Regions from separate parts of the Homo sapiens genome. Here region 2 is linked to region 1. Evidence: fine-mapped expression QTL. A gene starts in region 1. The other region holds a variant in brackets. All regions are shown on one strand. Distances are between the middles of the regions. Region 1 holds the start of PPM1F-AS1 (PPM1F antisense RNA 1). Region 2 holds the start of TOP3B (DNA topoisomerase III beta).

What was found. PIP is the estimated chance that this variant, and not a neighbour inherited with it, causes the effect.
Region 2: its variant is fine-mapped to the expression of PPM1F-AS1 in whole blood (TOPMed, PIP above 0.99).

What each region holds. Positions count from the first base shown.
Region 1 is chr22:21,934,000-21,942,326 of GRCh38, reverse strand. It overlaps PPM1F-AS1 (PPM1F antisense RNA 1), which reads right to left and starts at 4,090. Exons shown (of 2, transcript NR_147620.1): 1 at 2,714-4,090; 2 at 1-1,225. It overlaps PPM1F (protein phosphatase, Mg2+/Mn2+ dependent 1F), which reads left to right. Exons shown (of 8, transcript NM_014634.4): 3 at 2,647-2,795; 4 at 8,101-8,303. RefSeq lists enhancers at 2,052-2,858, 2,859-3,666, 3,667-4,473 and a silencer at 3,956-4,115.
Region 2 is chr22:21,976,209-21,984,535 of GRCh38, reverse strand. It overlaps TOP3B (DNA topoisomerase III beta), which reads left to right and starts at 1,749. Exons shown (of 18, transcript NM_001282112.2): 1 at 1,749-1,806. RefSeq lists enhancers at 1,570-1,864, 1,362-2,348, 5,799-5,968. The variant G/A (reference allele first, on the strand shown) is at 4,647.

The DNA.
Region 1 (8,327 bases):
TGCACTCCAGCCTGGGCAACTAGAGCGAAACTCCGTCTCAGAAAAAAAAAAAAAAAAATCAGGAATCCATCCCGGTAGATTCCTCAGACCATCAGTAGATACCTTGGGTGCCCAGCCCCCATGGAACAAGACCTGTCAGCCTGTGCTGTTGGAAGGTCCTCGCCTTCCAGTTAAAGCCGGGAGTGTCGGCCCAGTGCAGAATCACCTCGCCACCCCAGGCATGCTCCCCTGACCCCCACTCTCAGGGACAGGCACACAGGGGTGAATGTGTGTTGTCCAGCTTCCAGGGCCCCCACTGGGTGAGAAGGCAGATTCCAGGGGTCAAAATGCATGTTAGAGGCCATAGGGCCACTGAGGGAGCGACCCCTTCTGCCCAGAAAAGCCAGGGATGGCTCAGAATTTTAGACACTCCTCCCCACTGCCCTCCTTCTCAGCCACAGATGGCTTCAGTGTTTCTTTCCCTGATCTGCCCCGTGGCTCTCTTCTGCCCTGCCTACCTGCTAAAAGACGCTAACCCTCCTGTCGGTTTGCTTTCAGCCTGCTGCGACCTCCCTTTCTACCCACTACGCCTCCTCAACTGCTCAGCTCTGTTCTATGACATTGAAAGCAGTGACCCAATCTCACTTCTTAAAACATTTCCTTCGTGGCACCCAGAAGGCCACTCCTGGAGTCATCCCCACTTTGCTAGCCATGCTCTGGCCCTGTGGGACTCAGCCCCCTATCCTCATTCATTCCGCAGCTCCATCTCCTGCCCAGACCATGTTCTTGCAGGCCCTCAGGCCTCTTGACCTCCGTGGAACACAAGTCGCTGTGGAAACAGAGCCCATTGCCCATCCCCTGCCTGACTCTTCCATCCCCATCAGGGTAATTAACTGTACCACGAGCCTTCTAGTTGCTCAGAATAGAAACTTCAACACTGTCCCTGCCCCTCCATTTATACTGCCCGACTCTGTCTGCTCCTGTTTGTCACCATGGCCCTGCCCAGCCCAGGTCTTAGACTCTCTCCTTTAGACAGTCGTCCCCTTCTTGCCAGCCCACCCTCCACACCAGGGTCAGAGAGGCCTAAAAGCCCCATCTGATCATGCCATGTCCCTCTTCAAACAGACCAAAGGCGGCCAGGTGTGGCGGCTCACGCCATTATCCCAGGGCTTTGGGAGGCTGAGATGGGAGGATCACTTGAGGGCAGGAGTTCAAGACCAGCCTGGACAACATAGCAAAACCCCACCTGTACAAAAAAATTTACAGATTAGCTGGACATGGTGATGTCTGTAGCCCTAACTACTGCCTGTAGCCCTAACTACTCTGGAGTCTGAGGTGAGAGGATCTCTTGAGCCCAGGGGTTTGAGGCTGCAGCGAGCCATGATTGCACAGCTGTGCTCCAGCCTGGGAGACAGAGCAAGACCCTGTCTCTAAAAATAAATAAATAAAACACAGACCAATGGCAGTGCTTCCCTGTTAGCATAAAGCTTGGCCTGCCCTGTTCCCACAGCCCCTCACCCCGGCAGCTCCTATGGCCCCATCCGCCCAGGGACCTTGTGGACCACGCACAGCCACTTCCTCTGCTGAGTGTGCCCATGGGTCCCACACCCCAGGATCAGCTTCCTGGAGCTGCTGTACAAATGACCACAGACCCAGCAGCTTAAACAACAGAAGTGTGCTTCATGGTGCTGGAGGCTGTCATCTGAGATCAGGATATTGACAGAACTGGCTCCTTCTGGTGGTTTGTGGGCAACCCTTGGCATTCCCTGGCTTGTAGGTTCATCCCCCAGGTCTCTGCCTCATGTTCCCCTGGCATTCTCTCTGTGTGTGTGTGTCTGTGTCCAAATTCCTCCCCCAACCTGTTTTTTTTTTTTGGAGACAGCATCTTGCTCTGTCGCCTAGGCTGGAGTGCAGTGGCACAATCTTGGCTCACTGCAACCTCCACCTCCCAGGTTCAAGCAATTCTTCTGCCTCAGCCTCCTGAGTAGCTGGAACTACAGGCATGCGCCACCACACCCGGCTAATTTTTGTATTTTTAGTAGAGATGAGGTTTTACCATGTTGGCCAGGCTGGTCTCAAACTCCTGACCTCGTGATCTACCTGCCTTGGCCTCCCAAAGTACTGGGATTACAGATGTGAGCCACCGCACCCGGCCCAAATTCCCTTTTTCATAGAGACATCAGTCATTGGAGTAGGGGCCCAGCCTGCTCCAGCATGACGTCATCTTAACTAATTCCATCTGTAATGACCCTGTTTCCAAATGAGCTCCATTCTGAGGTACTGGGGGTTAGGGCCTCAGTGTATGAATTTAGGGGGGACACAATTCAACCCAGAACACTCCCCACCCCCCAGGGTCCCCAGCTGGCATGGGTGATTCCTCTGCCCTCCTGTGGCCAGGAGCCATCATCAGCATGGATGTCAGGCAGTTTACTTGCCCATCAACAGCCCCCTCCCAACTAGCCGCAGGCTCAAGTATGGTCCAGCTCCCCACCAGATGGTTGTGCGTCTGCCTTTGCTGTCCTGTGACCTTCCTGTCCCAGCTCCCTGAGGACAGGGGCCGCCCTGCTGGCCGTGACCCCTCAGCATGTGGGCTGACAGTTGGGGAAGGGGGGCTAGGTGTGGTCTCCTGCTGGGGGCTGCCCCTCACTTCCCCCTCCTCATCCCTAGGAAGGCCCCGCCACCACTTGCTGCTGCTCTGGCCCACGAAGCAGTTTCACAGCTGCTACAGACAGACCTTTCCGAATTCAGGAAGTTGCCCAGGGAGGAAGAAGAAGAGGAGGAGGACGATGACGAGGAGGAAAAGGCCCCTGTGACCTGTGAGTTCTGTTTCTTCTGAGGTGGCCCCAGGGCTGCTTAGCAGGCAACAAAGGGTGACGACATTGTGGGAAGCCCATTGATTGGGGTCCCTAAGGGTGCTGGGGCCCTCGCTCACAACGGCAGCAGAATCAAGGAGCAGAGAAGGCTTGCGGCCCCAGTGAGGTGGAGGGTGGCGGTCACAGCCCTCCACAGGTCATATAGTTCCCAGTCAGCCCACGAGGCAGGGGTGGGTGGTGCAGACACCCTCCTGTGTCCTGTCTGACTGAAGTTCCAGAACAGCCCAGGAAATTAAAGATGCTTATCCCGTTTCACAGAGGATCTCACAGGTGATCGATCTCTGGTCATGCAGCCAGGTTCAAGTGCCCTCAGTGTTGTAACTCAGTTAACATGCGCCCGGGCAGGCGAAGTCAGGGTTGGCCAGGTGGCATGCCAGCAGGTCTCGGGGCAGCAGCGTGGTCCCCTCAACGCTCGGGCCCCCTGCCTCAGCTGCCCCCAAGTCAGGATTCTGTTGGGTGGAGACGCTCTACGGTGTCCATGAGCCCCATGGTTAGATGCTGGTGGAAGCTTGTCTGTCAGCCTGCTCCTGGGACAGCCATAAGCATGGTGTGGCCAGGGGAACCCAGAAATGGAGAGGGCTGCAGATCCATTTCACAGAGGATATAATCATTAAAAAGCAGGGCTTTTATTTCATGTGACTTTCTTTCATTCTCCTAGTAATTTCATTTTATTATATTTCGCCAAAGTGTTGGTTGATGTTAGACCAGAAATACAGGGCGTAAGAATCGCAGGCTGCAGCAGGGGTGCCACAAGGGGGTAGCAACGTCCCACCCAGCTGAATAGTTGTCCCTGGACAGGCCAGCAGGCAGCAGAGTTGCAGTGGATTTTCCCTTCCTTGCCATTTCCTGTCGGCCATTTCCTTTCCCTTCCTTTGCCATTTCCTTTCCTTTCCCTGTTGTTCTAAATTCGGCATTACTAGTGCATGCGTGCATCCGGGGAAAAGGAACAAGGTGGGAGAAGAGAGAGAAAGCGAATACCCGAGGCCGCCAGCATCAGTGGGTGCCCGCGCTCTCCTCCTCGCTCTCGTCCTCTGCCCTCCGCCCTGGCTCCCTGCCCGCATTCCCTGGGAGCGCAGCCTTGCCTTAGCCTGGGAGACAGCTGTCCACAGTGACAGGCGGCCATTGTTCTCGGCCGAGCCAGCAGGCTTCCGGCCGGTGGCAGCTGCTGCTCCTCCGCTCTGCGGCCCCACCAAGGGGGCGCCGCCACCGCCCAGGCCCTCCCCGCCTGATGGGTCTCTGTCCGTCCACGCGGGAGACAGCGCCACCTGCCGGTGAGAAGGAGCGTTGCTGCGCCGGCACCAGCCCAGTCCTACGCTCGGGGCTCCTGCAGGCCTGGGAAGGAGGGAGGGCGCAGCTAGAAGGAAGTCTCGCCTGCCCTTGCTTCCCCGTCTGTCAGAGTGCCTCGCATGCAGGCCTGCCTAGCGGCCTTGATCATGCTCTCCCTGTCACGGAAGTAGAATGTAGTCAAGTTTTTGGACTCCAAGCCATTCTTACAAAATTGCGTCAGAGTGGGGATTGTATTATAAGAATTGCCACTGAAGAGCAGCGAGTGGCTGAAACCTCTGTGTGGCTGCCAGTCAGCCCCTCCCCGGTGACTGGATCAGCGAAGAATCCAGAAGCGAGGTTGCGGGGCTGCAGCCCTTGGCATGGGGAGTCCGTGGGCTGGGCAGCACTGCCTCAGCCGCTGGCCTTTCCTGAGCAGAGTCTAGGCTAAGCGGCTGTTGGAAATAGCAGTAGCACCCGGGGCGAGACCGTGAGCCACAGCGGCGGCCGGAGTCTCCCCCAGCCCGAGCTCAGGCCTGGTAAGCACCAGGAGCCCACAGTTTCCAGAGGGAGTGAGGAGGAGTCCATGGCATTTAGGGGCAGTTTTCTGGGCACAGTGGCCCTCAGACGAGAGGAAGAGGAGGCAGCGCTACAAGGACTGGCAGGACGAGGGGGGTTTCCTGCTGGTTTGCAGGGGATCCACTGGCCAAACTTGTGTGGAGCTGCCTTCCCTGAGCTGGGCCTGCCTGAATGAGTTCTCAGGCCCCTCCTTCACCCATAGCCTTGCCAGTCCCCAGTTCTTGCCAAATGCTTGAATAGGCCCCTGTGTTGGCCATGGCGGCAGCAGCTGGCTCTGGATGCCCCCACCCCTGCCTTGATGCATGGATTCCCAAGAACCTGTCTTTCTGTGACCTCCTGCGTGCATAAGCCCTCGCGTTCATGGTTCTTCCTCGGTGGCCCCCTCTGGCCTCAGCCCTTCTCCTTTTCTTCCACAGCCTCCGCCTTTAGGCAGGAGCTCTTTCCTCCTCTCAGTTCCCCATGTCCTTTGGGTGTGGCCTGTGACACTCAACTCCTGCCCTCGGCTGACTGGCCCTGATTCACCATGCTTGCCACATGCACCTGGGCTGGCAGGAGTTCCAGGAGAGTTTGTGCATTGAAGTGACATGAGTCCCTGAAGCCAGAGCCCCCATGGTTTCCTTTGGGCCTGTTACTGGTTGATCTTTTCTTGAGAAGCCAAGCTTAGGTAGGATTTGGGTATTTTTTCTTTTCAAATGAGTATTGTGGCTTATATTATTTGTTGCTACATAACAAATTGCCCCAAATGTAGTGGCTTAAAACAACAGACATTTATTCTCCCAGTTTCTGTGGGTCTGGAATCTGGGAGCAGCTTAGCTGGTTCTGGTCCAGGGTCTCTTACTGGGTTGTGGTGACATGGTTGCTGGCTGGGCTGGAGGGCCTGCTTCCACGGTGGTTTCAACACACGGCCACTGACAGGAGGCCCTGGTCCCGTCCCATGTGGACTCTCCGTGGCGCTGCTTGAGCATCCTCACAGCTCAGATTGAGCGATGAGAGGGAGGGAGGAAGAGAGTGAGAATACACAAGGCGGGAGGCGCAGGGCCTCTTTGTTTCGTAACACCTGAAGCACACGCAGTCACTGCCACTCTTCATCAGAAGCAGCCAGCTCCCACACTCAGCAGTGGGAAGTGAGCTCCACCTCGCAAAAGGGGAAGTCAAAGAATTTGTGGACATGCTTTAAAGCCACTGTCACACGAGACTAACACTTGTAATGAAAAACTGGGGAAGTATTAAGAAAGTGTACTTCAGGAAAAAGCTGTCCGTGGAACTGCCACGTGCAGGCCCACTCTGACACCTTGGTTGTGTGCTGTTCCCGCCTTTTTTTTTTTCTGGCCCTGGTGGTTTTTCATGGACTTGTAGTTAAACTGCATATGTAATTTTCCTTCTTTTTTCACTTAGTATCATGACAGAAGCATTTTACATGCTTATAAACTCTATTAAAATCCATTTTTTAGTTTTCTGTTTTAAGAGACCAGGTCTCCCTCTGTCACCCAGACTGGAATGCAGTGGTGTAATCGGAGATCGCCGTAACCTCGACGTCCTTGGCTCAAGGGATCCTCCTGCCCCAGCCTCCCGAATAGCTGGGAGTAGATATACCACCACACACAGCTAATTTTTTTTGGTTTGGTGTTGTTCATTTGCGACTGAGTTTCGCTCTGTTGTCCAGGCTGGAGTGTAGTGGCTCAATCTTGGCTCACTGCAACCTCTGCCTCCCGGATTCAAGCAATTTTCCTGCCTCAGCCTCCCAAGTAGCTGGGACTACATGTGCATGCCAGCACGCCCAGCTAATTTTTGTATTTTTAGTAGAGACGGGGTTTCACTTTGTTGGTCAGGGTGGTCTCGAACTCCGGACCTCAAGTGATCTGCCTGCCTTTACCTCTCAAAGCGCGGGACTACAGGCATGAGCCATGGCGCCCAGCCTGTTTGTTTTTAAGAGACAAGGTCTCTTTATGTTATCCAGGCTGGTCTTGAACTCCTGACCTCAAGCAGTCCTCCCACCTCAGCCTCTCAAAGTGCTGGGATTACAGGCATGAGCCACTATGCCTGGGCTAGTTTTTTTTAATTAAACTTTTTGTTTTGAGATAATCATAGCTGCACATGCAGTTGTAATAAATAATACAAAGAGATTCCATGTATACTTTACCCAGTTTCCTCCAATGGTAACATTTTGCAAAACTATAATAAAATATCACCACCAGGATCCTAACATGGTCAAAATACAGAGCAGTTCCATCACCAGGATCCCTCCTGTCACCCTTTTAAGGCCACCCTTATACCCCCACCCCTACAGACCCCATCCCTAACCACTGGCAACTACTAATCTTCTCGGCTTCTACCATTTTATTATTTCAAGAACACATATAAATGGAAGCATATGATGTGTAACTTTAGGGGACTGGTTTAATTCTCTGGAGATTAGCCCAGGTTGTTTGATGCATCAGGAGTTCATTCTTTGCCATTCTTGAGTGGTATTCAAAGGTATGGGTCGACCACGGTTTGTTTAACCATTTCCACGTTGAAGGACATCTAGGCTGACTCCAGATTTTGGCTGTTCCAGATAAAGCTGCTATGAACATTTGTGTTCATGTGTTCAAGCTTTTATGTGAACAGCCTTCATTGTTCTGGGATAAGTCCACAGGAGTGCCACGGTGGGGTCGTATGGGAGTTGCATATTTCGTTATGAAAATCATATTTAATAGCAGCTTAATTCTTCATCAAGAGACTAGATCTTTTTTTTTTTTTTTTTTTTTTGAGACAGAGTCTTGCTCTGTCGCCCAGACTGGAGCATAATGGCATGATCTCGGCTCACTGCAACCTCCGCCTCCCAGGTTCAAGCGATTCTCCTGCCTCAGCCTCCCGAGTAGCTGGGATTACAGGCGCCCGCCACCATGCCTGGCTAATTTGTGTATTTTTAGTAGAGACGGGGTTTCACCATGTTGGCTAGGCTGGTCTCGAACTCCTGACCTCGGGTGATCCGCCCACCTCGGCCTCCCAAAGTGCTGGGATTACAGGCGTGAGCCACTGCGCCTGGCCGAGACTAGATCATAATTTAAGTATTATTCCTTTGTCATTGGATATATAGTATTTCTAATTAATGGGCAATTATAAGTGATTCTGTACTTTGTCTTTAAAATTATTTTTGTGTTTCTGATGATTTCTTCAGGGTGGGTTCCCATGAGTAGAGTTGCTCCATGGTGGGATGGGAGACTTCAAGGGGCAAGTTGCCAAACTAGACATTTCTAATTCTGGTAACAGGCTGCCATGTGCGCGTTATTGAGTTGATGTGCTCACAATGCCCCGGGAGGTGATGGGGGCTTTGCAGGCCCCTGTGGGAGCTGTCAGGGAGCCAGCGAGGCCTCAGCTGGCTTGGTTGGCACTTCCCTGACAATCCCTCCATTGTGCCCATCAGTGCTGGATGCCCAAAGCCTGGCACAGAGTTTCTTTAACCGCCTTTGGGAAGTCGCCGGCCAGTGGCAGAAGCAGGTGCCATTGGCTGCCCGGGCCTCACAGCGGCAGTGGCTGGTCTCCATCCACGCCATCCGGAACACTCGCCGCAAGATGGAGGACCGGCACGTGTCCCTCCCTTCCTTCAACCAGCTCTTCGGCTTGTCTGTGAGTGCTCCCGTCCAGACCCTG
Region 2 (8,327 bases), 42 kb before region 1:
TGCTCCCAGGCTCTGTCCCTGAGCAACCAGGAAGATGGAGTTGCCATTTTGGAGACGAAGAACCTACCAAGGTGTGGGTTTGGAATCAGGAGTTCTGCTTTGAAAGTGAAGTCTCACCGTGACTCATAATTTGTGACATTTCCAAACCTTAATTTGCCTATAGAACTTTTCTTTTTCCAGAGCCTCTATCCAGACTACTTATTATTTATCAAAATAAATTAGATAAATAAATAACTTAATTTTAGAATTCATCTTCCAGATATACTTTACACAGATCATTCCAATAAAGGCAGGTTGGGGCCCGGGACAGTGGCTCACCCCTGTAATCCCAGCACTTTGGGAGGCCGAGGCAGGAGGATCACTTGAGGCCAGGAGTTTGAGACCAATCTGGGCAACATAGTGAGACCCTCCCCCTAGACCCCATCTCTACCAAAAAAAAAAAAATTAATTGGCTGGGCTTGGTGGCTGGCACCTGTGGTCCCAGCTACTGGGGAGGCTGAGGTGAGAGCATCGCCTGACGCCAGGAGATCGAGGCTGCAGTGAGCTGTGATCTCGCTACTGCGCTCCAGCCTGGGTGACAGAGTGAAACCCTGTCTTTAAAAAAAAAAAAAAAAAAACAGCAGGTTGGGAAAATCTACAAGGAACAAGGGCAATGTGTGTATGTTATTTAAAATAAGATCATAAAACGTATTTTAAACCTTCCATAATCCTAATGCTCTAACAAATAAATTAGTTGGCCGAGCGTGAAGAGTCACACCTGTAATCCCAGCATTTTGGGAGGCCGAGGGAGGCGGACCACCTAAGGTCAGGAGTTCAAGACTAGCCTGGTTAACACGGTGAAACCCCCGTCTCTACTAAAAATATAGAAATCTTTGGGAGGCCAAGGCGGGCGGATCACGAGGTCAGGAGATCGAGACCATCCTGGCTAACACGGTGAAGCCCCGTCTCTACTAAAAAAATACAAAAAATTAGCCCGCGTGGTGGCAAGCGCCTATAGTCCCAGCTACTTGGGAGGCTGAGGCGAGATCATCGCTTGAACCCGGGAGGCGGAGGTTGCAGTGAGCCGAGATTGCGCCACTGCACTTCAGCCTGGGCAACAGAGTGAGACTCCGCCTCAAAAAAAAAAAAAAAAATATATATATATATGTATACACACACATATATATACATACACATATAAATTAGCTGGGCGTGGTGGCGCACGCCTGTAATCCCAGCTATTTAGGAGGCTGAGGCAGGCGAATTGCTTGAACCTGGGAGGCGGAGGTTTCAGTGAGCCGAGATCACACCACTGCACTCCAGCCTGGGCGACAAGAGTAAAACTCTGTCTCAAAATAAATAAATAAATAAATAAATAAATAACTTAATTTTAGAATTCATCTTCCAAATATATTTTACACAGATCATTCATTCATTCCACAGATTTTTTTACAGCATCGAAAAGAAGCCTGCTATACACACATCGGTACATTTTTATTATTTTAATTATTAACAGCATAAATGTTTTCATGCCAGTTTTCATAATCATTGTAATGATAATTGTCATGATTGTCTCTCCGTGGCGGGGAAGAATCTGGGTGCAGGGCTTGGGGATCCCTGCGGTCCGCGGCGTGCAAGTGCCACTCCCTGGGGTGCTCCCGGAATCCGCGAGCCACGGAACCTAAGAACGCCGACCCGCCGGAGCCGGAGGGCAGACGCTGGCACACCGGACGCGGGGACGCCAGAAGCGGCTGGACCCGGAAATAGGGGTTGTCGGTAGCCGCCCCGGGAACAAGGACCGGAGCTGGATCCGCGGTGCGGCTGTGGGTGAGCGGCGGGCTGCGGGACCCTCGCCCGGCGGCTCAGAAAGGCGGGAAGCGCACGCATTTTTCTGGCTTGTTTCCTGAACGTTGGCCGGCGGAGGACCCGCGAGCTCGGGAGAGCGCCCGGGCCGGGCTCTGCATTCTTGTTGCCTCTTCCCTGGCGGGGGTGATACTCTCCCGCGGGGCTTGCTGTGGGGGTTCAGGGAGGTGGAGATGGGCCCGCCATGTGCCTGCAGGGAGCAGGCGCTGTGGTTAATACTTTTCTTCTTCGAACCCTCCCACAGCTCTTTAGGGTGAGATCTGCTGTACCAGTCTCACAGGTAGGGAAACTGAGGCTCAGGGAAGCTGTGCAGCCACCGGGGCCCAGATCGGTGCGGTACACACCCAGGCAGCTTCCACTCGCCGCCCCCTAGGCCCTGGCTGGGTTTTGAGGGCACCCAGGTTCTCTGACCTGTTATCTGTAAATGAAGTAGGGTACTTTTGTGAACAAATTAGCTGGAATCCAGGGGCAATAATTTCTCGCAGAAGTGAAAGGTAAGATGTTCCTAGTCTTGCCTTTTTATCTTCTCACCTTTTGAAACAGGACCTGAGAGGCCAGCCTAACTTGGGCTTGATGGCCAGCCAGTCCTGGGATTCTTTTGCCAAGGTCACCTGACACTAGTGTGACTTGTTCTGAACCTCCATTTACTCACAGTTTTAAAAAATTACAACACCTGCCTTATGGGGTTGCTGGCGAGATTGAATAGTGTTGATAGCTATGGTGTGCCTACTACAAAGGAGGAGCTTAAGAAATGGTTGTTTCCCTCTTTTCCTGATTCTAGAAGCATTTGGTAAAGTTACTGAGGTGGTAAATCCTAGGAATTTTAATGCTATTCAGACCACTGCTAGGCCTACTCCCAGGCCACATCTGCTTGTTTCTTTTTTTGTTTGTTTTGTTGCAGGCAGAGTCTCACTCTGTCACCCAGGCTGGAGTGCAGTGGCGCGATCTCAGCTCACTGCAACCTCCGCCCCCGGGTTCAAGTGATTCTCCTGCCTCAGCCTCCTGAGTAGCTGGGATTACAGGCATGCGCCACCACGCCCAGCTAATTTTTGTATTTTTAGTAGAGACCAGGCTTCACCATGTTGGCCAGGCTGGTCTTGAACTGCTGACCTCGGGTGATCCACCTGCCTCAGCCTCGCAAAGTATTTGCTCACTGTCTATTTACCGTGAGAATGCACAAAGCAAAACCCGTGTTCTCCTGCTGCTTACTTACTTTCTAGGAGCTGTAAGACAAGAGCTGAATAAGTAGATGGAAGCTGTACCAAGTGTAGTGATGAGTGCTACAAGGAAGCAAAGCTGGGCTGCTGTTCCATCAGAGTGCTCACAGAGGCAGGACAGGATCAGGCTTGGGGCACGGGTTCTAGAACAACCAAGTCCAGCCACTGGAGCTCTGGTCTCTCTGACCCCACAGTCCCAGTCTAGGCCAATAAAATGGCAGCACCTATTAGCATCCCTGCCTAGGATGCTGGCAGGACTGCCTGGTCCCTGGTGTGTCCTCATTATGTCATACATAATTGCTGACTACTCTGTGGCATAGACATGAGAAAATCTGAGGAAACATTTTAGGACAAAATTTCCTACTTTGGAAGAGATGGGAAACTCAGACCCTCACAGAACAATGCCCCTCTGCTGCGAGTTTTCCCTTTTGGCCTCTGGCTTCCCAGGGTGAGAGAAGGGGAGTCCCTAAATCTCTTTTAAACCTCACTTCTGGGCCTCTGATTTTGGTAGAATCAAAACTTCCCCAGAACGGAGAGCAGAGGCCAGTCATAATCACCTTGGTTGTTCATTCATTCCCTCAGCAGGCATTTAGTGCATGCTGGGTGCCAGAAATATGGCAATGAACCTGACAATTGTGGGAGAGACAGACTGCTGACGCCAGATGCAGTCTTCAGGAGGGGAGGGGCAGGGGTCAGAGCAAGTAGACTAAGGGGGAAAAGTGGCCTAGGCCGAAGCCTGCTGGCGCACAGGGAGGAAAGGTGGGTGCGCAGCAGAGCCTTGGGAGATGCAGCTGGAGCTGTCATGGGCCAGAGAGCTCATCTGCAGACAGTGTCGTCATTCCACAAGGCCTCGGCTCTTTCACTGTGGGATGGTTGTACATTTAAGGGGAACATCCACTTACTTATTTTGAGGAAAAAAGCAAATTGTCATTTTATTTGGGACAGCTTTCTGGTCAAGATTACTGATTTCACTGTAGTCCTGTGATCTCTTAAGTGGGGAACAAGGTTGACAGCCCAAGGCCGACCTTGGACCTCTTCCCCTGCACAGCATGATGAGCAGCAGAAGCCCCTTTAGTGAGGGAGTTCCTTTGGCATCCTTTCTGAACAATGCCCTTTACAACCCTCCTTTATTTTTCTGGTTTTATTGTAAAGTCCCTTGTCTTAGTTCTTGTCCCTCAGTCACCTGTGTCCAGGCGCTAAATGTAAAAGGTGCAAAAGGGAATGTGGTGAGGAGGCACCCCCAGCCCTGACCTCCAGGCCCTAACACCCACTCCAGGTGATTGCTTGGACTGTTTGTTTTGCGTTCCATCCAGACATATCGCCTCTTCATAATCAAGTGCACACGTGTGCACACATATGTGTGATCACAGATGGCAGTGCTCTCTACACACCGTTACATGCCCAGCTTTCTTAGCATGATTTATTTCAGTGATCTGATCCACGTTAGTATGTACCAAGCAGATGCTTTCCTTTGTAATGCTGCCAGGTGCTCTACTGTAGAGAATGCCATGCTTTTTTTTTTTTTTTTTTTTTTTGGAGATGGAGTCTCACTCTGTCGCCCAGGCTGGAGTGCAGTGGCGCAATCTC[G/A]GCTCACTGCAAGCTCCGCTTCCCGGGTTCACACCATTCTCCTGCCTCAGCCTCCCGAGTAGCTGGGACTACAGGCGCCTGCCACCATGCCCAGCTAATTTTTAGTATTTTTAGTAGAGACGGGGTTTCACCACGTTAGTCAGGATGGTCTTGATCTCCTGACCTCGTGATCTGCCCACCTTGGCCTCCCAAAGTGCTGGGATTACAGGCGTGAGCCACCGCGCCCGGCCAGAGAATGCCATGCTTTTATTTAACCACCTCCCTGTTGACAGACACCAGCTTGTTTCTAACCTTTTATCATGATTGATAATGCTGCAGAGAACTCCCCAGTGATGTGGTTCATCACAGGCACCACCGTGCCCAGCCTGAGGCCACTCCAGCGCTGCCCTGTCCTACCTCCTGGGGACTCAGAGTCCACATGGACAGTCTTGTCAGGGCCCACCACTGACTCCTGTGAGTCTCCCCAGGTGACTTCACTCTCTACCTGTCTCACAGCCCTTGCCCTCCCTGGGTCAGCATGCCACCACCCAGGCCCCTCTGTAATTCCTGTTTGAGCCTCCCACCCTCTGGGAGTTGCTTCTTTGACTCCCACTTCCTGCTCTTGTGCCTCACTTCCTGGACCCCACAGAGCACACCCTCTGTGGACCCTCCCCAACCCTCACCTCCCTCTTCACCCAACTCAGAGTCAGGTTCTGTCCTTGTAATCTCTCCCCTCGAACCCTGACCCACTCCCTCTCCCTCCTACTCACCTGGACTCTCCCATCTAACTAAATCCAGTGCTTCCTCTGCTGTGGGCCTGCCCGCAGCATCACCACCTGTCCTCCCTCAGTGGACAGCCGTACCATGCCTCCTCCTCCACCAAGAGAAGTGCAGCCTTGTGGCAGCTCTGCATCGCCTGGATGCTGACCGGCTGCCTCTCTTGCCCCTCACCCTCCCAAGGCCATCACTGCAGCAGTTCCTTCCCCTCCGGCACGCAGCTTCTCTTTTCCTTCTCGCCAGAGCAGTCCCATCAGCGGAGAACATGCTGGCACAGCCACCATCCTGAAACAAGAGGGGACAGTGCACCAGCCTTCTCCCATCTCCCAGGTTTTGTTGAGCTCACCCCATGCAGCTTTCATCTGTCACTCACCACATGGCCCCATCAGGATTACCCAGGGCTCTGTTTGCCAGACCCTACAGTCAGGTCTCAGCTGCCATCTCGCCTGGCCTGTCAGTGTCCCCCACATGGTGATAACTGCCCTGAAGTGCTCTTTCCTGTGGCTTTCAGGACCTTACCCCTCCTGACTCACCCTGCTAGCTCCTCATCTCCCGACCCCCAGCCTGGGCTCCTTCCACATTGCTGCCACCTCCTCCAGGCCACCCAGGCTGTCCAATGGGCAGGTCCCGTTTAACACACCTGAAGTCCCACATCAGACTGCCAGTCCCTTCCTGTCATGCCTAAGCCAAAGCCATGGGTTGTTCCTTTTGCTTTTTTGTAAAGATGAGGTCTCATTGTGTTAATCAGGCTCTTCTCAAACTCCTGGCCTCAAGTGGTCCTCTTGCCTTCGCCTCCCAAAGCACTAGGATTATAGGTGTGAGCCCATGGCAGGTGTGAGCCCATGCCCAGCTCTGCCTCAGGTCATTCTTGACTCACCTTCCCCTCCCCCTCCCATGTCCCGCCATCCCAGGTCTGCCTGGATTCTGACTTCCCTCGCATCCTCCACCACTGCTACCCAGGGCCCATTCATCCTCTTCTATGTGGCAGCCAGAGAGGTCCCTTTAACACTTGAAGTCAGATTATCCCACACCTATGCAAACCCTCTGCTGCCTCCCAGCACCCCTAGAGCAGACCCACATTCTACACCCCTGCTCCCTCCCTCAGCCCCATGAGCCCCCCTGCCCAGCCATATCCTCCCCAAGGACCTCACCTTCCCTGCTCCTTCTGCCTGGACTCTTCTCCCAGGTGTCACCCAGCCCTGCCCTGTCCCTCCCCTGCTCCCATACTACAGCATGAGTTCTGGGAGGGCAGGACCTGGTGTTGCTTTGTGCTGTATTCCCTGCATCCTGGACTAGGCCAAGCATGCAGTAGGTACTCAATAAATAACTGGACTATTAAGTTCATTCCAAGGAGTGGAATTGCTGGGATGTGCACTCGGACTTTGAGAGGGATCCCTGAATTGCTGCACATAGAGGTTGTTCCCATTTAACTTCCCCATGCCCTCATCTGCTGTGTGTGCAACGACTTTGAGTCTCTCCCTATGTGATAAGCACAAGCTCATTGTAGTTCTGAGTTTCTTCTGCGAGTGTTGTTGGACATGATGTGATACCACAAAGGTACTTACGTGGTGGTTTTCCCTTTTTTTTTTTTTTTTTTTTTTGTTTGAGATGGAGTCTCACTCTGTTGTACAAGCTGGAGTGCAATAGCATGATCTCGGCTCACTGCAACCTCCACTTCCTGAGTTCGAGCGATTCTCATGCCTCAGCCTCCCAAGCAGCTGGGATTATAGGCACCCACCACCACACCCAGCTAATTTTTGTATTTTTATTAGAGATGGGGTTTTGCCATGTTGGCCAGGCTGGTCTTGAACTCCTGACCTCAAGTGGTCCACCCACCTCAGCCTCCCAAAGTGCTGGGATACAGGCGTGAGCCACTGTGCCCATCTAGGTGGTAGTTTTTCTTTATGCTGAGATTATTTTATTTTGCTTTTACTTTTTTTGAGACAGGGTCTTGCTGTCACCTAGGCTGGAGTGAAGTGGCTGTTCTATCCACAGGTGCAGTCATGGCACACAACAGCCTTGAATTCCTGGCCTCAAGCAAGCGATCCTCTTGCCTCAGCCTCCTGAGTGGCTGACACTATAGGCATGTGCTACCACACCTGGCTTGTGAGATTTATTTTAAAAGCACATGTTTTTCCTAATATTTTCTGGTTTCATTGTTTCTACTCAAACCTTTGCTAGATCTGGAATCGGTTTTAGTGGGATTTAGGAAGCAGGAGTCTAACTTTATTTTTTTTCACAGCAGATTTCCCAGTTGTCTCAATACGAGTCTTTTTTTTCTTTTTTAATACGGTGCTATGTTTATAAACATCAGTGCTACATTTATAATGACTGAAAAAACAAAAAGGGTTCATGTGGTTTTCTTTTACTTGGCTAGCAGGTATTGAATGTCATGTGTCAGGCACAGAAAGCTGTTGCAAAGACCAACAGTGATTCAGACACAAAGCCCATCGTGTCCTATTTTGGGGGTGAAGTAGTCGCTGATGATGGCATGATGTGAGTGGGTTGGAATGGAGACCTAGCCCAAGAGCTGTGGGCACAGGAGGGCTGACTTACCCTGCCAGTGGTGTTGGGAGACTTGAGCTGGGCCTGTGGGCCATCCAGCTGCATCCTCCAGGCCTGGCGGAGCTTTCTCTCAGGCAGGGAAGCGCAGGCACAGAGGCTTCAAGTGCGTGTTTGCTTCGATGATGATATTTGATTTAATTTGGCCAGAGCATGACCTGCAAAGCAAAAGGTGGAGTGGAATAGGTGGGAGATAGATGTGACAGAGTCCTGATGTCTGCTTGGGGCTGGACCGACTAGCCAGAGGGTCTCAGGCCCATCATGGATCAGAAGGACCTGGGGGGCCCAGCCTGGGCATCTGCATTTTGTAAAGTGTCCTGGGGCGTCCAAGTGCTTTGCTGAGCGGGAGGTGCTGCTCTCGGC